3 separate regions of the Homo sapiens genome follow, and regions 1 and 2 are each linked to region 3. Evidence: fine-mapped expression QTL. A gene starts in region 3. Each other region holds a variant in brackets. All regions are shown on one strand. Distances are from middle to middle. Region 1 has its middle 7.0 kb from the start of DPEP2. Region 2 overlaps NFATC3 (nuclear factor of activated T cells 3). Region 3 holds the start of DPEP3 (dipeptidase 3).

Evidence for each region.
Region 1: its variant is fine-mapped to the expression of DPEP3 in whole blood (GTEx, PIP above 0.99).
Region 2: its variant is fine-mapped to the expression of DPEP3 in whole blood (TOPMed, PIP above 0.99).

Annotation. Positions count from the first base shown.
Region 1 is chr16:68,002,390-68,010,658 of GRCh38, forward strand. It overlaps the pseudogene KARS1P3. Among named protein-coding and RNA genes, the nearest start is that of DPEP2, 7.0 kb to the left of the region's middle. RefSeq lists an enhancer at 4,197-4,970. The variant T/A (reference allele first, on the strand shown) is at 3,548.
Region 2 is chr16:68,156,182-68,164,181 of GRCh38, forward strand. It overlaps NFATC3 (nuclear factor of activated T cells 3), which reads left to right. Exons shown (of 10, transcript NM_173165.3): 4 at 1,688-1,887. Among named protein-coding and RNA genes, the nearest start is that of MIR6773, 73 kb to the right of the region's middle. RefSeq lists an enhancer at 7,383-8,000. The variant T/G (reference allele first, on the strand shown) is at 4,563.
Region 3 is chr16:67,976,803-67,985,071 of GRCh38, forward strand. It overlaps DPEP3 (dipeptidase 3), which reads right to left and starts at 3,697. Exons shown (of 10, transcript NM_001370198.1): 1 at 3,292-3,697; 2 at 2,837-2,963; 3 at 1,695-1,824; 4 at 1,465-1,606; 5 at 1,136-1,205; 6 at 851-1,027; 7 at 468-552. The coding sequence starts at 3,578. RefSeq lists an enhancer at 3,021-3,521 and silencers at 7,902-8,001, 8,124-8,269.

The sequences.
Region 1 (8,269 bases), 26 kb after region 3:
GGCTCAGGCAATCCTCCTGCCTCAGCCTTCCGAGTTGCTGGTGGAATCTGTGAGAAACATGGTGACTCGGTCAATAACCATGCCCCAGGCAGTTGTGGGGGACAGCCTGTATTCCATGGCGGCAACAAAGTTTTCATCTACGGACAGGGCCTCATCATCACCTGCGGCCTTAGCCTGTTCTTCAAAAAGCTGCCACTGCTGCATAGGATCATTTAGATCAGTGTAGGCATTGCTTATCGCTTTCTTTATGACAAATAGCTTAAAGCGCTGGGTCAGACCTTTTGAGTAGTGCCATTTAGCCAAAGGGCTCATTATCTGGGGGTGATCACAGATGAATGTAGAATTGTTGCAAATCACTTCCAGGAACTCCCCCAACAAGCTTGTCAAGGAGCCTGGCTGTGGTCCTAGGTGGAGGGCACGCAATAGCATTTGCACGCAGATATTATCAAGAATTTTGCCAATTGCTTCAGTTTCAAATAGGTTATTTTCTGGCAGCTTCACCCCCAGGGCTTTCTCAAGCTCTTCTATCATGCTGATTCTCCGGAAGGGTAGGGTGAAGTCAATATTGCAGGCTTATCCCTCTGGGACATCTGGGTAGTAGGTGACCTTGTAACTACCTGTATTATGCTTCACCATCCCTGGAACCATCTTCCCCGTGATTTCCGTGAGATTGTGATAGTCTAGGCCATGTAGAACTCAGGGGTGCTGAACTCAGGATTTTACGTCAAATCAATTCCTTCATTCCAGAACTGGAATGCAATTTCATAAACCTGGTCAATGCCACCAACCACTAGCATCTTATGGTAGAGTTCTAGAGTAGTTCATGTGCAGCTTGTTGTGATAAGTGATGAAAGGCTTGGTCATAGCTCCCCTGGGATGACGTTCATTCATGGGAGTTTCAAGCTCTAGGAATCCCAGCTCATCCAAGAAACTTTTTTTTTTTTTTTGAGATGGAGTTTTCTTGTTGCTCAGGCTGGAGTATAGTGGTGCAATCTTGGCTTACTGCAACCTCCACCTCCTGGGTTCAAGTAATTCTGCTTCAGCCTCCTGAGTAGCTAGGATTATAGGCACCTGCCACCACGCCCATCTAATTTTTGTATTTTTAGTAGAGGTGGGGTTTTACCATGTCGTCCAGACTGGTCTCGAACTCCTGACCTCAGGCAATCTGCCTGCCTTGGCCTCCCAAAGTGCTGGGATTACAGGCGTGAGCCACTGCACCTGGCCTAAGAAACTTATTATACATGTGATGATCTTACAGCAGATGATAAATTTCTGCCTCATTCATTCAGGATCAAGTCCAAGTATCTCTGACCATACCTTATTTCCTTGTCTTTGAGGCCAAAGTGAAGATGAGGTAACATATACAAGCAAGGCCACAGCAGTGTGATCTCATAGGGAATGAAGCTCAGCTCATCCTTCTTGGTTTTTCCCAGGATTCCTCTGAATTCCAATTATGTTTCCCCAACGCAGTTTGTTATTAATATGAATAAATTATTCTTCCTGAAATTATAATTCCTGAAATTGGCCATGACTTGCAACTTGACCCCCTCTGCTCAAAGATCATAGAAGTTCATGGCTGGGCACTGTGTCTCACGCCTATAATCCCAGCACTTTGGGAGGCCAAGGCAGGCAGGCAGATCACCTGAGGTTGGGAGTTCGAGATCAGCCTGACCAACATGGAGAAACCTCACCTCTACTAAAAATACAAAATTAGCCGGGCGTGGTGGCGCACGCCTGTAATCCCAGCTACTAGGGAGGCTGAGGCAGGAGAATTGCTTAAACCTAGGGAGGAGGAGGTTGCAGTGAGCTGAGATTGTGCCATTGCATTCCAGCCTGGGCAACAATAGTGAAATTCCATCTCAAAAAAAAAAAAAAAAAGATCATAGAAGTTCAGCTTTCCTCCAAAAGCTTTTTTGGCATGGATCCTATCTGTCACGTTTAAGGTGATATCAGTCAGGAGATCCCCAGTTTGCAGGTGACAATATTCTGGGATGAAGTCAGTGAGGGAGATGTCTACATGGATCTCGTTGGGGTATGGGTCTTTCCCATTGACCTACCTGACTGCAAATCTTTTTTTTTTTTTTTTTTTTTGAGACAGAGTCTCGCTCTGTTGCCCAGGCTGGAGTGCAGTGGCTCAATCTCAGCTCACTGCAACCTCCACCTCCCAGATTCAAGCGATTCTCCTACCTCAGCCTCCCAAGTAGCTGGAATTACAGGCATGTGCCACCATGCCCAGCTAATTTTTGTATTTTTAGTAGAGATGGGGTTTCATCATGTTGGCCAGGCTGGCCTCGAACCCCTGACTTCAAGTGATCTGCCTGCCTCAGCCTCCCAAAGTGCTAGGATTACAGGAGTGAACCACCGGGCCTGGCCTTGGCTGTGGATCTTGTAGTACTGATTTGGGTCCAGGCTCTCCTCCTCAGGACCCACACCATTGTCAGTGGTATGGTTGGTGGCAGCAGCAGTGACCTGGGCTTAGCTGTTTCTCACTGAGCTCTTACTGCTTGGCTGCCTTCTCTGCCACTTTCTTCTCGGCTTTCAGGTATCTCTTCGGCTTGTTCTTGCTCAGTTTTGACTCACCACCATCCACTTTAACCTTGGCCCCTTGTACTGCAGTCATCTTCCCAGAGGGCCTGGACCCAAAATTGTGTTTTTTTTCTTTTTCTTTTTTTTTTGAGATGAAGTCTTGCTCTGTTGCTCAGGCTGGAGTGCAGTGGCGCAATCTCGGCTCGCTGCAACTTCTGCCTCCAGGGTTCAAGGGATTCTCATACCTCATCCTCCAGAGTAACCAGGAATACAGGCACCCACCACCACTCCCAGCTAAATATTCACATTTTTAGTAGCGATGGGGTTTTGTCATGTTGTCCAGGCTGGTCTCGAACTCCGGGCCTCAAGTGATCCTCCCACATCAGCCTCCCAAAGTACTGGAATATAGGCATGAGCCGCTGTGCCTGGCCCTGTTTTTTGTTTTTTTCACGTGGCCGTGTAGTTAAGGAACCAGCCTTATCGTGTGGGTAAGAAAATTGAGCAGCTGGTCAGATGAGGGGTTCCTTCAATCCCTCCACTTCCAGCTGCTGCCTCTAGGAAAGGCCTCAAATTCCTTACCTCAGCTTCCTGGGATTACAGGCGCACGCCACCATGCCTGGCTAATTTTTTTATTTTTAGTAGAGACAGGGGTTTCTCCATGTTGGCCAGGCTGGTCTCAAACTCATGACCTCAAGGGATCTGCCCACCTCAGTCTCCCAGAGTGCTAGGATTACAGGCGTGAGCCACTGTGCCCAGCCTCAAATTCCTTACATCTATCAGTTTGTCCGGGCATCATTTCCTGATCACCCACTGGTGCTGGCCATTTGCTGGGGTGTGCAGTGAGGTGGCTGGATAAGTCTCCAGCTATCACATGTGCTGGCATAAGCACATGGGGGTGGAGGGTGGGCTCTGTAGAGGCCCCCAAGATCCAGGAGCCAGTGCTGACCAAACATCTAGACAACATGTGTGATTTCACATTTAACCTCAAATTCAGACTTGCTGTCTCTTGCTTAACCTTGTC[T/A]GCTGATCTCCGAGGGCTATCAGACCTGTTTCTGCAAAAACACAGTGAAGTCACAGCACACCCTGCCCCGGAGCTCTCTAAGCTTCCTGTTTTTATGCAGAAAGCCTGCCCTCCTGTGAAGCTGACCATGTGAGATCTCACTGACTCCGCATCTGGGTGAATCTGAGAAGCTTAGTTAAAAACAACAACACAAAACTTTTTTTTTGAAACTGTATCTCCCTCTGTGGCCTAGGCTGGAGTGCAGTGGTGCCGTCATGGCTCACTGTAGCCTCAAATTCGGGGCTCAGGTGATCCTCTCACCTCAGCTTCCCGAGTAGCAGGGACTACAGGGTGGTGCCACCACACCCAGCTAATTTTTTTTTTTTTTTTGGTAGAGATGGGATTTCACCATGTTGCCAGGCTGGTCTCAAACCCCTGGTCTCAAGTGATCCTCCCACCTTAGCCTCCCACAGTGTTGGGATTACAGGCATGAGCCACTGTGCCCAGACCAAAAAACTTTTTATAGGAAAAATTGCAAATACATGAGAAAGGAGAGAGAAAAGTGTATTAACTCCCATGTAGCCATCACCCAGTTTCAAAGATTACCAACTGATGGCTCATCTTATTTCATTTATGCTCTCACTCACCTCTTTCTACAGATTATTTTAAAGCAAATCATAGACATCTATTTCATCCATTTTTAAGTATGCCTCTCTAAAAGGTAAGGGCTCTTTTTAGGCTGGGCACGTGGCTCTTGCCTGAAATCACAGCACTTTGGAAGCTTGAGGTGGGTGGATCACCTGAGGTCAGGAGTTGGAGACCAGCCTGGCTAACATAGCGAACCCCATCTCTGCTAAAAATACAAAAATTAGCTGGTTGTCGTGGAGGACACCTATAATCCCAGCTACTCAGGAGTCTGAGACAGGAGAACTGCTTGAACCCAGGAGGCAGAGATTGCAGTGAGCTGAGATCATGCCACTGTACTCCAGCCTGGGCAGCAGAGAAAGACTCAGTCTCTAAATAAATAAATAAATAAATGGTAATGGCTGTTTTTAAAAGACAACTATAAGCCAGGTGCACTGGGCCATTCCTGTAGTCCTACTAGCTATTTGGGAGGCTGAAACAGGAGGATTGCTTGAGCCCAGGAGTTTGAGGCCAGCCTGGGCAGCATACTAAAACCCTGTTTCTGAAAAATAAAATAAAATAAATAAATATATAAATAAATGGCAATTACCATACCATTATGACCCTTATAAAAGTTAACAGTACTTTTCTTTTAAAATTTGTAGAGACAGGGTCTTTTTTTTTTGAGACAGAGTCTCCCTCTGTTGCCCAGGCTGGAGCGCAGTGGGGTGATGTCGGCTCACTGCAAACTCCGCCTCCTGCGTTCACGCCATTCTCCTGCCTCGCCTTCCGAGTAGCTGGGACTACAGGCACCCGCCACCATGCCCAGCTAATTTTTTTGTATTTTCAGTAGAGACGGGGTTTCACCATGTTAGCCAGGATGGTCTCGATCTCCTAACCTCGTGATCCACCCGCCTCGGCCTCCCAAAGTGCTGGGATTACAGGCATGAGCCACCGCGCCTGGCCGAGACAGGGTCCTGTTTTATTCCCCAGGCTGGTGACGAACTCCTGGGCTCAAGCAGTCCTCCCTCTTTGGCCTCCCAAAGTGCTGTGATTACAGGCATGAGCCACCACACCCAGCCACTTTTTTTTTTTTTTTTGAGATGGAGTCTCGCTCTGTCGCCCAGGTTGGAGTGCAGTGGCGCCATCTCGGCTCACTGCAAGCTCCGCCTCTCGGGTTTATGCCATTCTCCTGCCTCAGCCTCCCGAGTAGCTGGGACTACAGGTGTCTGCCACCACGCCTGGCTAATTTTTTGTATTTTTAGTAGAGATGGGGTTTCACCATGTTAGCCAGGATGGTCTCAATCTCCTGACCTTGTGATCCACCCGCCTCGGCCTCCCCAAAGTGCTGGGATTACAGGTGTGAGCCACCACGCCCGGCCTTTTTTTTTTTTTTTTTTTGAGACGGAGTTTTGTTTTTGTTGCCCAGGCTGGAGTGCAATGGCGTGGTCTTGGCTCTCTGCAACTTCTACCTCCCAGGTTCAAGGGATTCTTCTGCCTCAGCCTCCCAAGTAGCTGGGATTACAGGCACGCATTAACACACCTGGCTAATTTTTTTGTATTTTTAGTAGTGACGGGGTTTCATTATGTTGGTCAAGCTGGTCTTGAATTCCTGACTTCATGTCATCCGCCCACCTCTGCCTCCCAAAGTGCTGGGATTACAGGCATGAGCCACCGTGCCCAGCCCAATTCTTTAGTATCATAAATTATCTATCATGTTCAAATTTATCTGATTGTCCAATTTTTAAATAATTCATTGGTTTGAACTGTAATGGAGCTCAGACCGCCCACATTGTAAATGGTTGTTATGACTCAATCTTCAGGTTCTTCTTTTTTTTGTCTTCCTTGCAATTTCTTTGTTGAAAAAATCACGTCCTTGTCCGTTAGAGTTTTCCATGTTGTAGAGTTTTCTGATTGCATCTCATGGTGTCATTTAACATGTTCCTGTGTCCTTGTGTTTTCTATAAACTGGTAGTTAAGGCAAGCTTTTATTTATTTAAAATTTTTTTTTCTAATTCTTTACTGTTAATATTTTTTGTAGAGATGGAGTGCTGCTGTGTTGCCCAGGCTGGTCTCGAACTCTTGGGCTCAAGCAATCCTCCCACCTCAGCCTCCCAAAGTGCTGGGATTACAGCCATGAGCCACCATGGCCAGCTGAGGGGAAGCTTTTAATACTGTGGATTTCTAGGCCAGTACCCTAAAACTTTAGACTGGTGTGGGTGCTGGGGATCACTTTTTTTTTTTTAAGACCGAGTCTCGCTCTGTCACCCAGGCTGGAGTGCAATGGCGCGATCTCAGCTCACTGCAAGCTCCGCCTCCCGGGTTCATGCCATTTTCCTGCCTCAGCTTCCCGCGTAGCTGGGACTACAGGCACCCACCACCACACCTGGCTAATTTTTTTTTTTTTTTTGTATTTTTTAGTAGAGACGGAGTTTCACCGTGTTAGCCAGGATGGTCTCGATCTCCTGACCTCGTGATCTCCCCGCCTTGGCCTCCCAAAGTGCTGGGATTACAGGTGTGAGCCACTGCGCCTGGCCGGGATCACTCTTTTTTAAGAGCCCCAGTTGAGTCTATTTGTTTCAGCTTTGGGAACTGCCAAACTATCCAGGCCATCCAGGAACCACAAATCTGCTTCAGTCACGCCACGGATGAGAGACTCTGGGGGTTAATGGAGACTCTCACAGGGAACTTTCTGGGAGCCCAGGGCCTGTGCCTCCTTCCTTTAACCCAAGTTAGGAAAACCTATCAGGACCTTTCCTGGCCTCCATGGTATGCGTGTTGGGGGGAGGAGCAACAGTCTTGCTGCTGGGACCCCTAAGGACAAGTGAGTTGCTGACAGTGCCGCCTTTTTCTGGGCTGCTGATACAGGCAGACTTGGGACAAACGTCATGGTGTTTCTTCTCTGCTGACTGCTCCTCCATCCCCCAGTCCCCAGCACCAGCTGTCCCAGCTGCAGAGAGAGACAGTCCCCCTGGTAACAGCCAGCACCTCACTACCATGGCACGCAGCAGTCAGACGGATCTTTTTAGCATCTATATCAGATTACTTCCCTACCTTATTCAGATTCCTCCATGACTTCCCAATATACTTAAAACAAGATCCACTGTCCTTACCGTGGCTGGCACGGCCCACTATGGTCTGGCCCATGCTTACTTGCTTACTTCCTTACTTCTCCAACCACCTTTTTCTTTTCTTTCTTTTTTTTTTTGAGACAAGTCTCACTCTTGTCCCTCAGGCTTGAGTGCAATGGCTCGATCTCGGCTCACTGCAGCCTTCGCCTCCCGGGTTCAAATGATTCTCCTGCCTCTGCCTCCCAAGTAGCTGGGATTAAGGCGCCTGCCACCACACCCAGCTAATTTTTGTATTTTTTAGTAGAGACAGGGTTTCACCATGTTGGCCAGGCTAGTCTCGAACTCCTGACCTCAGGTGATCCACTAGCCTCAGCCTCCCAAATTGCTGGAATTACAGGAGTGAGCCACTGCACCTGGCCTCCAACCATCTTATTTTTTTTTCCTTCCTTCCTTCCTTCCTTCCTTCCTTCCTTCCTTCCTTCCTTCCTTCCTTCCTTCCTTCCATCTTTCCTTCCTTCCTTCCTTCCTTTCTTTCTTTCTGACAGAGTCTCACTCGTTGCCTAGGCTGGAGTGCAGTGGCAGGATCATGGCTCGTTGCAGCCTATACCTCCTAGGCTCAAGCAATCCTCCTGCCTCAGCCTCCTGAGTAGCTAGGGACCACAGGCATTCACCACCACACCCAGCTGATTTTTTGATTTTTTGTAGAAAGGGCACCTCCCTATGTTGCCAGGCTGGTCTCAAACTCCTGGGCTCAAGTGACCCTCCCTCCTTGGCCTCCCAGCCACCACATCTTTCAATCTCCTCTATCTTTCTTCCCTGGCCACACTGGCCTTTCTGCTGGCCCTCAAATTGGTCAGTCTTGTAGGCCGGGTGTGTTGGCTCACACCTGTAATCCTAGCACCCTGGGAGGCCAACGCTGGCGGATTACCTGAGGTCTGCAGTTTAAGACCAGCCTGGCAAACATAGTGAAACCCCATCTCTACTAAAAACACAAAAATTAGCCGAGTGTAGTGGCATGTGCCTCTAGTCCCAGCTACTCAGGAGGCTG
Region 2 (8,000 bases), 180 kb after region 3:
GAGTCTGTAATCAATCCCAGCTTCTCGGGAGGCTGAGGCAGGAGAATCGCTTGACCCTGGGGGGCAGAGGTTGCAGTGGGCTGAGATCGTGTCACTGCACTCCAGCCTGGGGGACAAGAGCGAGACTTCGTCTCAAAAACAACAACAACAACAAAAACAAAAACAAATGGATAATGATGGGGACAAAGATACAAGAGAAGAAAACTGCAAACCGATATCCTTCATGAATATACATGCAACAATCTTCAACAAAATGCTTAGCAACCAAATCCATCAGCACACTACAAAAGTTTATACACCATGATCAAGTGGGATCTATCCCAGGAAAGCAAGAGTGGTTCAACATATGAAAATTAATCTGTGTAATTTACTACATTAGTAGAATGAAGAGAAAAACCATGTGGTCATCTCAGTTGATAGAGAAAAAAACCTTTGACAAAATTCAGCAGCCTTTCATGATTTAAAAAAAGCAAAACAGCCGGGCACAGTCACTCACACCTGTAATCTCAGCACTTTGGGAGGTCGAGGCGGGCAGATCACCTGAGGTCAGGAGTTCAGATCGCCCTGGCCAGCATGGTGAAACCCCATCTGTACTAAAAATACAAAAATTAGCCGGGCATGTTGGTGGGTGCCTGTAATCCCAGCTACTCGGGAGGCTGAGGCAGGAAAATCGCTTGAACCCAGGAGGCAGAGGTTGCACTGAGCAGAGATCGTACCACTATACTCCAGCCTGGGTGACAGAGCGAGACACTGTCTCAAAAAAAGGCAAAACAAAGCAAACTGAAAATAGAGGGAAACTTAGTGTGATTAAGAGGATTCTTGAAAAACTCACACCTAATATCATACTTAATGGTTAAAGACTGAAAGGTTTCCCTCTAACATCAGGAACAAGACAAGGATGCCTGCTTTCACTACTGCGATTCAGCCTTATGCTAGAAGTCCTAGCCAGAGCAATTAGGCAATATAAAAGAAAAAAAAAAAGGCATAGAAAACAAAGGCACAAACACATTCTCTCTCTCTGTCTCTGTCTCTCTCTCCTTCTCCTTCTCTCCCTCTCTCCCTCTTTCTCTTTCCCGAAGATTGTTGAAATTGTTTGCTTAAATAGGCATTTAACTTGGTTGGAGTCAGCCTGGAAAACTTGTCTCCCTGTGGTTGGTGGCAGCTCAAAATCTCATTTCAGTTTTAGCCTTAGCTAGGCTGCTTGGGGTCTGTAAGTTTATACTTATAAAATTGTAAGTTTATAATATATGGAATAGGGGTTTTCAGACTCTTTCTACTAAAAGTGTCTCCGATTTAACAGTCTGTTAGAGGACCTTCCTATATACCCAAATCTTTAGGTCTGGTCTGAATGGTTAATGTTGCCCAGAGTACAGAATCAGTATTTCTTTTGTGTTTTCTACAGCAGAGTCAGAAAGCTTTGTACAGTTTTGGTCGATCTAGATATTTATCTTAAAAAAACAAAACCAAACCCACATTCCTTTATGTAACGTATTCCAGTGTTTTATTTCTTAAACTAATTTGGAAATTTGGAGGGCTGCTCACTGGTTACTTTTGGTTGTATTTTTTGAAATAACATTTTGTGTGTCAATAGTATATGATAGAGATATAATAGACTTACTATTGTTGGCATATTGTAAAATGCATGGATAATGAATTGTGCTTTTCTGTGTTTCTTTTTCCTGATTAGCTCCTGGGCTATAACGAAAAGCCAATAAATCTACAAATGTTTATTGGGACAGCAGATGATCGATATTTACGACCTCATGCATTTTACCAGGTGCATCGAATCACTGGGAAGACAGTCGCTACTGCAAGCCAAGAGATAATAATTGCCAGTACAAAAGTTCTGGAAATTCCACTTCTTCCTGAAAATAATATGTCAGCCAGGTATTTTGAAATATACCTAAAATGTGCAGTTCTTTTTTTCTCTATACTTTCAGAAAAAAAGTAAATATATTTTTGAATATAAATATAAAATATTGTTCTAAATGGCATTATGTAAATAATGTACATTTAGTACATTTTCTAAGAGTGGTAGCATATTTCCAGAAGGAAAATTCAATTCAGTAAGTGTTTTTATACTATATATTACCAGCCAAGCCATTATCCTAGGTGATAGGGATATAAATACTGTATCTGGACTTTCATCAAATGGCTCACAGTCTATCTAATAGGGTAGACAATAAATAAACAATTATGATACAATTATGATTGTTCTATTTCCTTAAGGAAAACTTTTGACTTTACCTCCAGGCATCCCACTTGACCCATTTCCAAATAAGATGAGGTGGCCAACTTCTGAATGAGAATGCAATAGAGTTTTGTACAAAAGGATTATATATAGTTGCCTGTAATAGAAACCTGATATGCAGTGGCTTGAACAGTTAGGGGTTTAGTGTTTTATCACATAAACGAAATATACAGATAGATATTTTAGGGCTAGCACAGTAGCTGCATAAGTCATTAGGGCCCCAAGCAAGTTTTTTCTTCTTTGCCGTCTTTAGCATGTGGTTTCCATCCTAAAGATTGTCTTATGATCTAAAATGGCTGCTGGAGCTCTAGCCATGACATCCTTATTACCAGAGGGGTAATAAGGAGAAAGGTGTGGAGGAAGGGTAAAAGGGAACTTCCATTGGAGTCAAATCCTCTTTTAAGAACCTTTTCCTAAAACCTACTTAACAACTCTACATCTCATTGATCATGCTTATATGTAAGGAACACATGGTTATGTTTACCAGAACACATTGTCACCTCAAATAATTTAGGGAGGCCGAGCACCATGGCTCATGCCTGTAATCCCAGTATTTTGGGAGGCCAAGGCAGGCGGATCACCTGAGCTCAGGAATTTCAGACCAGCCTGAGCAACATGGCGAAACCTTGTCTCTACTAAAATTACAGAAATTAGCCGAGTGCGGTTGCGCCTGTCTGTAGTCCCAGCTACTTGGGAGACTGAGGTAGGAGGATCACTTGCCCGGGAGGCAGAGGTGGCAGTTAGTCGAGATAGTGCCACTGCCACTACACTCCAGCCTGGGCAAGAGTGAGATCCTATCTTTAAAAACAAAAAACAAACAAAGCAATGTAGGGGCCTGTTACTGAGGAAGAAGAAAAGAAAGGATATTGAGTAGGCAGGCACCTATCAGTGGGTAGTAGGCACAACCAGACATGGGAAACTTAGATTTTTATTACAGAAATTGTTTCAAACTACACTATAGACCTTTCTTTCTTTTTTTTTTTTTTTTATATTTTTATTTATTTTTTTCAAGATGGAGTCTCGCTCTGTGGCCCAGGTTGGAGTGCAGTGGTGCAATCTCGGCTCACGCAAGCTCCGCCTCCTGGGTTGATGCCATTCTCCTGCCCCAGCCTCCTGAGTAGCTGGGACTAGAGGCACCTGCCACCACGCCCGGCTAATTTTTTTGTATTTTTAGTAGAGATGGGGTTTCACCGTGTTAGCCAGGATGGTCTTGATCTCCTGACCTCGTGATCCACCCACCTCGGCCTCCTGAAGTGCTGGGATTACAGGCGTGAGCCACTGAGCCTGGCCCACAGACCTTTCTTAAGGCAGGAATAACATCCATCCCAGGCTATTGCAAGAACAGTCCTATAAAACAGATTTCAGCTGGGCGCAGTGGCTCACACCTATTATCCCAGCACTTTGGGAGGCCGAGGTGGGCGGATTACCTGAGACCAGGAGTTTGAGACCAGCCTGGCCAACATGGTGAAACCCGTCTCTGCTAAAAATACAAAAAATTACCTGGGTGTGGTGGCGGGTGTCTGTAATCCCAGCTACTCAGGAGGCTGAGGCAGGAGAATTGCTTGAACCCCAGAGGTGGAGGCTGCAGTGGGCTGAGATCACTCCATTGCATCAAGAGCGAAACTCCGACTCAAAAAGAAAAAGAAACCCCAAAAAATCAGATTTCAGTCTTGAGCTCTCTTCATTTAAATTTATATTTAAATAAACTTTTTAGATGAGCTGAGTGTACTCCCTGAGGACATAGAAACTGATATGTTTCTATTAGGTAAAATAAGAGTTGCCTCAATACATAACTTATTTTGGGCAGATCACTTGAGGGTCAGGAGTTCGAGACCAGCGTGGCCAATATGGTGAAACCCCCAACTCTACTAAAAAATAGAAAAATTAGCTGGGCATAGTTGTCCTGTCTGTAGTCCCAGCTGCTCAGGAGGCTGAGGCTTGAGAATCGCTTGAATCCAGGAGGCAGAGGTTGTAGTGACCCCAGATTGCGCCATTGCACTCCAGCCTGGGCGACAGAGTGAGACTTAGTCTCAAAACAAAAAACAAAAAACCTTATTCTGTTAATTACTACCAGAAAAGAAAAGTTAATATAAATTTAAATAAAATCTTTAAATAAATATAAATTTAAATAAAATTTTTGCCTGCTTTGGTTCAGATGGACAGTACTCAAGAACCTAACCCAGCAAATCATTGCATAGGGGCTATGACAGAGTTTTTTCACAGCAAAGGCAGACAGCTAGCTGATAATCTCTACTCTTAAATTTTTTTTTTTTAGACTGTCTAAATTTGTTGCCCAGGCTGGAGTGCAGTG[T/G]CACCATCTTAGCTCACTACAACCTCTGCCTCCCAGGCTCAAGTGATTCTCGTGCTTCAGCCACCCAAGTAGCTGAGATTGCACACGTGCACCACCACTCCTGGCTAATTTTTGTATTTTTAGTAGAGACAGGGTTTTGCCATGTTGACCAGGCTGGTCTCGACCTCCTGGCCTCAAGCAGTCCACCCGCTTTAGCCTCCCAAAGTGCTGGGATTACATCTAGATGTGAGCCACTGCAACGGCCTTAAACATTTGTGTTCTATAATGTAGAAAGAACTTTGGAATCTCAGCCTGTATTTATTCAGATACTCGAGCAAAACTTTCTTGAGGAAAAATATTGACACCAGGCATCCTATTGGACACATTTTCAAATAAGGTTAACATGCCCAACCTCTGAATGAGAATACAAGTAGGCTTCTTCCCTTTTGTTCTGGGATCTTACTTTTTTATATAGCATCAGAAGCATGTGATATGTGATTAGTCAGCTGTAGAGGGAAATTTAAAAATCACCTTTGAACTGTCTTTTTCCAAAAACTCAGGAAATTGATCCCTAGACGATAGTTTGCAGGCCATGTTTGCATTCATTCCTCTGGATATTCAAAGCACAATATTCGAATCAAGTTAAATAGAAAAATCACAAGTTTATTCTGTTACTTAACTTGGCTTGAGGGACAGTATGAGAAATAGCCATGAACATACTTCATAATCTGAAAAACCACTATTAAAGACAGTTTCTCTTAGGTTGATCACTATTGCATGCGTGTGTGCATGCACACACAAACACAGTCCTTTCAACTTAAAGGAAAAAAGTTAGTGTTTCCCGATGGCATGGTAGATTTTGCTTTACCGTACAACACGTGGCCTATAACAACTTTATCACATTTACTTTTTGCCTTGGCTTCCAGAACTTCATAGTCAAGCCCGTTTACAGTAATTATAGTAATTTGTACAACTCTAGACTTGGAGTTTACTTCCTAGTGTTTTAAAATTTTTTCTATTTATTTTTTCTTGGCTTTATTTGTATCTATATTGTAAAATGCCTCATATCCTTTCTGAAAATAATATATAAACCAATAAATAGAAAAGAGTATATTAATTTCTATGAAAAATTATCAAGAAATTGGGAAAGGCTCATATCCCAAATAATATGAAAGCATTGGAGCAGTAGGATCTAAATTTACCTGTCTCCTCCATCATCTTCCATTTACTAGCACATGGAACAAGGGTAATAGTCATAATTTATGTCCCTTCCTCAACCAGATCTAGCATGTACTGTGTATTTTAGACCAGAAAGGACCAGGCTGCAGAAATACCACTATGACTAGTAACATACAGGTAGTCCTCCTCCTGCAACCCTACCACACACATACCTAAAACTTCTTGACCATTCTATCTGCTCTGTACTGGTAGATTGTGGAACAGGAGTTCTGTAGGACCCAAGCGTTATGTATATTGGAGAAAGGATTAAATAAGGGGCAACTAGGATGTTACTAAACCTAAGAAACTTTTTTTAGGTACTGTAGATACCAGGGTAGCTAATGATGAATGAGCCTGTTTACTCAGTAGCTAATTGCTAGGATAAACTAGTATCCTAGTAGCTTGTTGAATGTAACTATATTATTCAGTACAGTGGTTGAATATAATATAGTTCCAGATAATGGTAGGTTTAAAATTCCCAGGTGATAGATAAGACCATGGTTCAAAATAATTTATGCATAAGTGAACCTTAAGTATGTATTAAGTGTCTTTACTGTTCTCTTAAGGCAATAAGGTGTGGAAAAATTCATAGATACTCCCTTGGTTTTGCCTACTAAGCCATGGGCTTGGTTATTTCAAGCCTAAACTCTTTTTTTTTTTTTTTTAAACATCTCAATTGGCTTTATTGGTGATTCTGGAATTGGGCAACACTTCATTCCATAAAATACATAAGTGTTCCGACAAGGTTGACTTTATAGACAGAGAAGGGCTGAAGAAAGACAAGCAAAGATCAAAGAACATGTTGATCATTTTTTTTTTTTTAATTGATCATTCTTGGGTGTTTCTCGCAGAGGGGGATTTGGCAGGGTCATAGGACAATAGTGGAGGGAAGGTCAGCAGATAAACAAGTGAACAAAGGTCTCTGGTTTTCCTAGGCAGAGGACCCTGCCGCCTTCCGCAGTGTTTGTGTCCCTGGGTACTTGCGATTAGGGAGTGGTGATGACTCTTAACAACGAGCACGCTGCCTTCAAGCATCTGTTTAACAAAGCACATCTTGCACCGCCCTTAATCCATTTAACCCTGAGTGGACACAGCACATGTTTCAGAGAGCACAGGGTTGGGGGTAAGGTCACAGATCAACAGAATGAGAATTTTTCTTAGTACAGAACAAAATGAAAAGTCTCCCATGTCTACCTCTTTCTACACAGACATGGCAACCATCCGATTTCTCAATCTTTTCCCCACCTTTCCCCCCTTTCTATTCCACAAAACCGCCATTGTCATCATGGCCCGTTCTCAATGAGCTGTTGGGTACACCTCCCAGACGGGGTGGTGGCCGGGCAGAGGGGCTCCTCACTTCCCAGTAGGGGCGGCCGGGCAGAGGCGCCCCTCACCTCCCGGGCGGGGCGGCTGGCTGGGCTGGGGGCTGACCCCACCACCTCCCTCCCGGACGGGGCGGCTGGCCGGGCAGAGGGGCTTCTCACTTCCCAGTAGGGGCGGCCGGGCAGAGGCGCCCCTCACCTCCCGGGCGGGGCTGCTGGCTGGGCGGGGGGCTGACCCCCCCACTTCCCTCCCGGACGGGGCGGCTGGCCTGGTGGGGGCTGACCCCCACCTCCCTCCTGGACGGGGTGGCTGCCGGGCGGAGACGCTCCTCACTTCCCAGACGGGGCGGCTGCCGGGCGGATGGGCTCCTCACTTCTCAGACGGGGCAGCTGCCGGGCGGAGGGTCTCCTCACTTCTCTGACGGGGCGGCCGGGCAGAGACGCTCCTCACCTCCCAGACGGGGTCGCGGCTGGGCAGAGGCGCTCCTCACATCCCAGACGGGGCGGTGGGGCAGAGGCGCTCCCCACATCTCAGACGATGGGCGGCCGGGCAGAGACGCTCCTCACTTCCTAGATGGGATGGCGGCCGGGAAGAGGCGCTCCTCACTTCCTAGATGGGATGGCGGCCGGGCAGAGACGCTCCTCACTTTCCAGACTGGGCAGCCAGGCAGAGGGGCTCTTCACGTCCCAGACGATGGGCGGCCAGGCAGAGACGCTCCTCACTTCCCAGACGGGGTGGCGGCCGGGCAGAGGCTGCAATCTCGGCACTTTGGGAGGCCAAGGCAGGCGGCTGGGAGGTGGAGGTTGTAGCGAGCCGAGATCACGCCACTGCACTCCAGCCTAGGCACCATTGAGCACTGAGTGAACCAGACTCCGTCTGCAATCCCAGCACCTCGGGAGGCCGAGGCTGGCGGATCAC
Region 3 (8,269 bases):
CTAGGCTAGTTAGACCCTGGCACCAGCCCTGTCCCCAGCACTCCAGGCTGTGGCAGTTGGCTCCACAGAGCTAGCTCATGGCCAGTCATGAGTCCTGAAGCGGGTACAGGCTGGTCACTGGACCTAGAGTGGACCTTGGAGCCACCCCTTTGGGACTTTTCCTGCCCAGGAGCCACCCTGCCTCTGGGTTCCTTGAGAGCCTGGTGCAGGCTGAGCCTGTCCTGCCCAGAGATGTGGGGAATGAGAGAAGTTCAAGGATTGGGAGCAAAACCAGGAGGCATCAAACACATCAGCACTGACTCTGTGGCTCCAGATCTGGGTGGCACTGAAGAGCTGTGTCTGCTGCCTCTGGGTCGTTGGGAGGTCTGCCCATTGCCCAACAGGTGCACTAGACTGCTAGAGTCGTCCTGAGGGCCCTGGCAGCCACAGCCCAAGCCAGCACTGCACAAAGCTGAGGTGGGACTTACCTGCCACAGTGGACACGTTAGCAAGCAGGTTGCACTGCAGCACCCCCATGGACAGTGTCACCATCACGATGCCACCGTTCTTCTTCTAGAGGGATAAAGGGATACTCATCTCAGCCCTTCTGGCCTGAGAACATGCCTCCTGTGCTGTGGGGGCCCTGGTAGGACTGTGCTCCATCCTGGCTTCAGGGGTTGGAAGAGGCTTCACCTCTCTGCGTTTGTGGGTCCCTGAGTGGAAATTACTTGGCCTTAAGTTTCAGGGATGGAGGAGGATTAACCAGCCTTTGGTCCAAGGGTGTGTGAAACCTGGGCTGGTGGCTTTGTGCTCAGGGTCAAGAACCTTTGGATAACACATGCCTAGTTTGAGAGCTGGGATGGCCACTCACCAGAAGCTGCAGGATATCATCGGGAACATTCAACAAATTGTCACACACAGCTCTGGCAGCTGAGTGGGAGAAGATCACAGGAGCCTGAGACACTTCCAGGACCCTTCTTATCAAGGTGTCCGATGCATAGGACAAATCTATCATCATGCCCAGGCGGTTCAACTCCTCTACTACTTTCTGCAGAAACAATTAGGTTTTTTTGTGGGGGAGGGTGTTGGGGTGCAAAGGTGTACACACATATCCGTAGGCAGCAGGTGGGTTGGGGTACAAAACAGGAGTCCTCACCTCACCAAAGCTTGTCAATCCGCTGACGTTGGTGTACATGTGGTGTCTGAACTTGGTGGAACTCTCTGCCCTGCAGGACAGCCATGGAAGGGCAATTTAGCTGATCACACCTTGGGCCATCACAGCCTGGGGGCCCTGGCTCTATCCATCCATCCTGCTTCCAGAACAGGTGCAGAACCAGCTGCTTTCTGGGATTGTGAGGGACCCACTGGGTGTCCAGCCTCCCTCTGCGGACCCCTTCATCCTCAACGGCTTGGTCACACCCATGCCAGGAATGGGGCAGTTTCCACACCATGCCATCTAGCATCCTGGCCAGGTGTTATGCTCACCATGGTGTACTGCAGGTGAAGGTAAGTGTCAGGTAGCGCACCCCCAGCACATAGAAACTGCGCAGCACAGAGAGGCTGCTGTCCAGTGAGTGACCACCCTCCACGCCAATGAGGCAGGCCAGCTTTTGAGAGCTGTTCAGACCTAGAAGGAGGTAGAGAGTCAAGTGGTTAGATCCCAGGAACAGAACCTCCAGAGTGACATCCTGACTACCTCTCATCTGCTGGCCCACCTTCAGCTGAGGTCACAAGCTCGAGTTCAGAGTAGGAGGCACACATGCGGTGAATGAGGTCAATCTGCTCCAGGGCGAGGCGCACGGCAGTCTGGTCCTGGGACTGGCATGAGACGGAGGCTGACCAGAACTGAGGGTAGGTCAAGGGGTCCAGAATGAGGCCAGGGCGGTCTTCAACCCCCTAGGCCTGCCACTCCTGCCTCAGACCCCATAACACCCATTTGGGTCAGTGGCCCCAAGTGAGGCACTACATGACTCCATGGTACCTTGATGACTTTTTTTAAAATTATTTTTTATTTTTATTTTAAAATTTGAGACAGGGTCTTGCTCTGTCACCCAGGCTAGAGTGCAGTGGTGTGATCATGGCTCACTGCAGCCTTGACCCCCCAGGCTCAAACAATCCTCCTGCCTCAGCCTCCCAAAGTGTTGGCATTACAGATGTGAACTACCGAGCCTGGTTCCTTGATGACTGTTTGCTGCCAGCAGTCAAATGATGGACTCACGACACATCATAAATTACTGTTACGGCCAGGCCAAGTGGCTCATGCCTGTAATCTCCACACTGTGGGAGGCCGAGGAGGGTGGATCATGTGAGGTCAGGAGTTCGAGACCAGCCTGGCCAACATGGTAAAACCCTGTCTCTACTAAAACTACAAAAATTAGCAGGGCGTGGTGGCGAGTGCCTGTAATCCCAGCTACTCAGGAGGCTGAGGCAGGGAGAATTGCTTGAACCCGGGAGGCGGAGGTTGCAGTGAACCGAGATCGTGCCACTGTACTCCAGCCTGGGCGACAGAAGGAGACACTGTCTCAAAAATGCAAACAAACAAACAAGCAAAAAACTGCTGTTAGTCCATGTGCTATGTGAATGCCCCAAGGCCAATCCACTATGTCCTTTGTGGTTACGGCAGACCCCACACTCACCAGGGATTTTCTGGTCATTTTCTGCGTGTTTCCACAGAACCTGGGCATACATGCAGCTAGCCTGTCTTGGCCTCCAAGGCCCCACTCTCCTTAGAAACCACATGATGGCACACTGCATGCCCCATTGTATTTAGTCACCCAGAGGCTGGCTGACCCAGGTTTCTGTGACCCCAACATCCCCCAGCAGCCATGCTGTGGCACCCTGTGTGTCCCTGTGGTACCTGGGCACCCACGAGGCCGTCTCTAAGCCTGTCCAGGCTGGTCTGACCATGGCTGAAATTTCGCAGGTTAACATCCTGAAGCACATTCTTGTAACGCTGTCTCAGGACCTGGGGCAGGTCATTGTGGCTGGGGGTGTGAAGGTCAGATGGAAACACCGCCTCCAGATCAGTCAGGATATATCAGGTGCTTGGGTCTACCCTCCTCCACCCCACCAGGCACCTCCTCACACAGACCATATAGAGACCTCCTGAGGTTGGGTTGGAGGGAGGGGGTTAGATTCCACCAGGAATGGAGTAATGCGGGGAAGGGCACCCATGGGTGATGGAGGAGAGAGGGCATCCAGGGGTGGTGTGAGGGAGCCTCCTTGATAGCCTCCTTGATAGCATGCTCAGAACCTCCTCTCCTGCCCAAGGGTGTGCTCACCCCGCGTTGCCCAAACGCTGCACCTACATACCCGTCCACGAGTGGGAAACTCCGCATCAGGGCCTGCGCGCGACCCCGAAGGTCCAGGGTTTTGGGGGTGCCTGGCGTAGTGAGGCCTGGGGTAGTGAGGGCGCTGGGGACACCCGGCGTGGTGAAGAGGCTGGGGGAGCCCAGCGTGGAGAGGGCTCTGGGGGCGCCCGGCGTGGTCTCCGCGCGGGTTACGGGCTGCCGCAGCAGCAGCAGCAGTAGCAGGAGCAGCAGACGCCGCAGATACCGCCGGCTGAGCGCGCGGGAACCCTCGCGGCCCGTGGGCTGCATGTTGCGCGGGGGTCGGCCGCGGGAGCCTGGGAGGAGCAGGCGATGGGCAGAGGCCGACAATGGGGTCCGGATCATGACGACCCAGCCTCCCGAAGAGGGGGTTGAAGTCACGCGACTCTGAGACCGACGCGCCACGCAAGGGGGCGCCACGGCTTTTCCGCCCCCAAGCAGGAGAGCGCCCCCATGGGCCGGAACCGCCGCTGCAGCGTCGAGGACTCCTCGCCCTTCCACCCCCAGCGCTGGCTCCGTAGACCCCCACACGAGTGGGGGAGGAGGCCAGGCAGGGAACTAGTAGGGGCCCAGGGATCTTCCTGATCTCACCTCCTACCCAGGCCCACGTGGCGGTTAGCTGCCGGCTTGTGCCCAGCTCCTAGGCAGGTCAAATATTCTAAGCTGCGACTCAGAAGAGTTAATTCGGTCTGTCTGGTTTGATGGACAGAAAGATTCCCTATAGGTATTTCATTTCATTTCATTTCATTTCATTTCATTTCATTATTTCATTTCATCTCATTTCAGTTTTGAGACGGAGTTTGGGTCTTGTTGCCCAGGCTGGAGTGCAATGATGCAGTCTCGGCTCACTGCAACCTCCACGTCCCGGGTTCAAGCCATTTTCCTGCCTCAGCCTCCCGAGTAGCTGGGATTACAGGTGCCCGCCACCATGCCCAGCTAATTTTTGTATTTTCAGTAGAGATGGGGTTTTACCATGTTGGCCAGGCTGGCCTTGAACTCCTGACCTCAAGTGATCCTCCTGCCTCGACCTCCCAAAGTGCTGGGATTACAGGCGTGAGCCACCGTGCCCGGCCCCGAAAATGAAATTTAAGAACAATTTTTGTTGGGGATCATTATTTTAGCTTTTTTTCCTTCTCCAAGAGACAGAGTATCTGTCACCCAGGCTGGAGTTGCAGTGGGGTGATCATAGCTTGCTGCAGCCTTGATCATAGCTTGCTGCAGCCTTGAACTTCTGAGCTCAAGCGATCCTCCTTCCTCCACCTCCCAAGTAGCTGAGACTATAGGTGCAGTGCCACCATGCATGGCTAATTGTTATTTTTTATTTTATTAAAACAAATTTTTTTTTGAGACAGGGTCTCACTGGAGTGCAGTGGCACCATCTCAGCTCACTGTAGCCTCGACCTCCCAGGTAAAAGTGATCCTCCTGCTTCAGCTCCCTAAGTAGCTGGGAGGGACTACAGGCATGCACCACCATGCCCAGCTAATTTTTGTATATTTGCATTTTTTTTTAGAGACAGGGTTTTACCATGTTGCCCAGACTGGTCTTGAACTCCTGAGCTCAAGCGATCTGCCCACCTAGGTCTCCCAAAGTGCTAGGATTACAGGCATGAGCCACCACGTCCGGCCTTATTTCTTTTTTAGAGACGTGGTTTTTTTTTTGAGACGGAGTCTCACTGTGCCACCCAGGCTGGAGTGCAGTGGCTCCATCTCTGCTCACTGCAAGCTCCGCCTCCCGGGTTCATGCCAGTCTCCTGCCTCAGCCTCCCGAGTAGCTGGGACTACAGGCGCCCACCACCATGCCCAGCTAATTTTTTGTATTTTTAGTAGAGACCGGGTTTCACCGTGTTAGCCAGGATGGTCTTGATCTCCTGACCTCGTGATCCGCCCACCTTGGCCTCCCAAAGTTCCGGGATTACAGGCGTGAGCCACCGCACCGGGCCGAATATTTTTTTCTATATATATGTTAGTATACAGACACAAAAATGAGAGGTGACAGCGTGCTGGCAGCCCTCACAGCCCTCGCTCCCTCTCGGCACCTCCTCGGCCTTGGCGCCCACTCTGGCCGCGTTTGAGGAGCCCTTCAGCCCGTCGCTGCACTGTGGGAGCCCCTTTCTGGGCTGGACAAGGCTGGAGCCGGCTCCCTCAGCTTGCGGGTAGGTGTGGAGAGAGAGGCGTGGGCGGGAACCGTGGCTGCAGGCTGCGCTTGCGGGCCAGCTCGAGTTCCGGGTGGGCGTGGGCTTGGCAAGCCCCGCACTCGGAGCGGCCAGCCGGCCCGGGCAGTGAGGAGCTTAGCACCTGGGCCAGCAGCTGCTGTGCTCGACTTCTCGCTGGGCCTTAGCTGCCTCCCCGCCGGGCAGGGCTCGGGACCTGCAGCCCTCCATGCCTGAGCCTCCACCCCCGCCGTGCGCTCCTGTGCAGCCCAAGCCTCCCCGACGAGCGCCAACCCCTGTTCCACGGCGCCCAGTCCCATCGACTGCCCAAGGGCTGAGGAGTGCGGGCACACGGCGCCGGACTGGCAGGCAGCTCCACCTGCGGCCCCGGTGCAGCATCCACTGGGTGAAGCCAGCTGGGCTCCTGAGTCTGGTGGGGACTTGGAGAATCTTTATGTCTAGCTAAGGGATTGTAAATACACCAATCAGCACTCTGTATGTAGCTCAAGGTTTGTAAACACACCAATCAGCACCCTGTGTCTAGCTCCGGGGTTGTGAATGCACCAATCGACACTCTGTATCTAGCTAATCTAGTGGGGACGTGGAGAACTTTTGTGTCTAGCTCAGGGATTGTAAACGCACCAGTCAGCACCCTGTCAAAACGGGCCCATCAGCTCTCTGTAAAACAGACCAATCAGCTCTCTGTAAAATGGACCAATCAGCAGGATGTGGGTGGGGCCAGATAAGACAATAAAAGCAGGCTGCCCGCTCTTTCAGTAGCAACTTGCTGGGGTTCTCTTCCAGGCAGTGGGAGGTTTGTTCTTTTGCTGTTTGCAATGGCTGTTGCTGCTATTCCGTTTTTGGATCCATACTGTATGAGCTGTAATACTCACTGCGAAGGTCTGCAGCTTCACTCCCGAAGCCAGCGAGGCCATGAACCCACGGAGAGGAACGAAGAACTCCGGACTCGGCGCCTTGAGACCTGTGACACCACGAAGGTCTTCAGCTTCACTTCTGAGCCTGCGAGACCGCGAACCCACCAGAAGGAAGAAACTCCGAACACATCCAACCATCAGAAGGAACAAATTCCGGACACGCCACCTTTAAGAACTGTAACACTCACCGCGAGGGTCTGTGGCTTCATTCTTGAAGTCAGTGAGACCAAGAACCCACCAATTCCGGACACAAAAAGACCCCAGAAGAGTCTACACATCAAATGTTAGTTAGCAGTTATCCTCTCGGGAAGAGATCTACCTGCACCCTGATCAGTTTGCATCTCATTTCTTTATTATGGTGATACTGGCTAAGGGAAATCATGGGTAGTGCTGGTGAGGGCTAATCAGGGTCATGGGGGTTGGGGGAGGCACCACAGCAGTAGCTGAACCTTGCTTCAAAGGTCTGGATCGGGCATGGAGGAGTGGAGAGGGGATCCAGGGTTGGCTAACAGCCCAGCAGAGGTCTAGTTTGGGCATTACAACAACTGTTGTGGAGGAGGCACAGGTGGATTCTCTAAGGCATGGAGTTGAGGGACAAGATCAGACTAGGTCTCTTGGTCCTGAGAGCATGAGGGGGCTTGGTCTGACACGTTATTTCACCTGGGGCAGAAATCCTCCTTAAAGACAATACAAGGCTAGCTTCCAGCAGCTCCTCGTCATTTCCTGTTGAAAAAATCCTGGTGCAGGGGAAATAGATCTCAAAACTGCATCTGGGGCCGGATGCGGTGGCTTACCCCTATAATCCTAACACTTTGGGAGGCTGAGGCGGGCAGGTTGCTTGAGTCTAGGAGTTTGAGACAAGCTTGGCCAACACAGTGAAACCCCATCTCTACTAAAAATACAAAAATTAGCTGGGCAGGGTGGTGTGTGCCTGTAATCCCAGCTACTGAAGAGGCTGAGGCAGGAGAATCACTTGAACCTCGGAGGCGGAGGTTGCAGTGAGCCGAGTGCATTGCACTCCAGCCTGGGCAACAGAGCAAGACTCCGTCTCAAAACAAACAAAAACTGCATCTGGGTCAGCGCAGTGGCTCATGTCTGTAATCCCAGCACTTTGGGAAGCCAAGGCAAGCAGATTGCTTGAGTCCAGGAGTTTGAGACCAGCCTAGGCAACATGGTGAAATCCTGTCTTTACTAAAAATACAAAGTATTAGCCAGGCGTGGTGGTGCGCACCGGAGGTCCCAGCTACTCCAGAGGCTGAGGTAGGAGAATCACTTGAGGCCAGGAAGTTGAGGCTGCAGTGAGCTGAGATCGTGTCACTGCACTCCAGCCTGGGCAATGGGAGTGAGACCCTGTCAAAAAAAAAAAAAAAACAACGCTGGGGATGGTGGCTCACGCCTGTATTCCCAGCACTTTGGGAGGCCAAGTTGGGTGGATCGCCCGAGGTCAGGAGTTCGAGAGCAGCCTGGCCAACATAGTGAAACCCCGTCTGTACTAAAAATACAAAAAAAATTAGCTGGTCCTGGTGGCAGGTGCCTGTAATCCCAGCTACTCGGGAGGCTGAGGCAGGAGAATCACTTGAACCTGGGAGGCAGAGGTTCTAGTGAGCTGAGATCGCGCCACTGCACTCCAGCCTGGGCAACAAGAGGAAATTCCGTCTCAAAACAAAACAAAAAAAACCCTGAATCTGGGTAGCATCTGAACTTCCTGGGCCAGTTGCTGCTGAGAAAGGCCAATGACACAGACCGAATCTAAATTATCTTCCCTCTGCGTCTGTGTCTGTCTCTTGTTTTTCCACCTGGGCTCCCTGATAAGTGGGCATCCCCTTCTGGGCACCTCAAGAAGGGCCTTGGCCTCTGGCGACCACTTCCCCTTGTT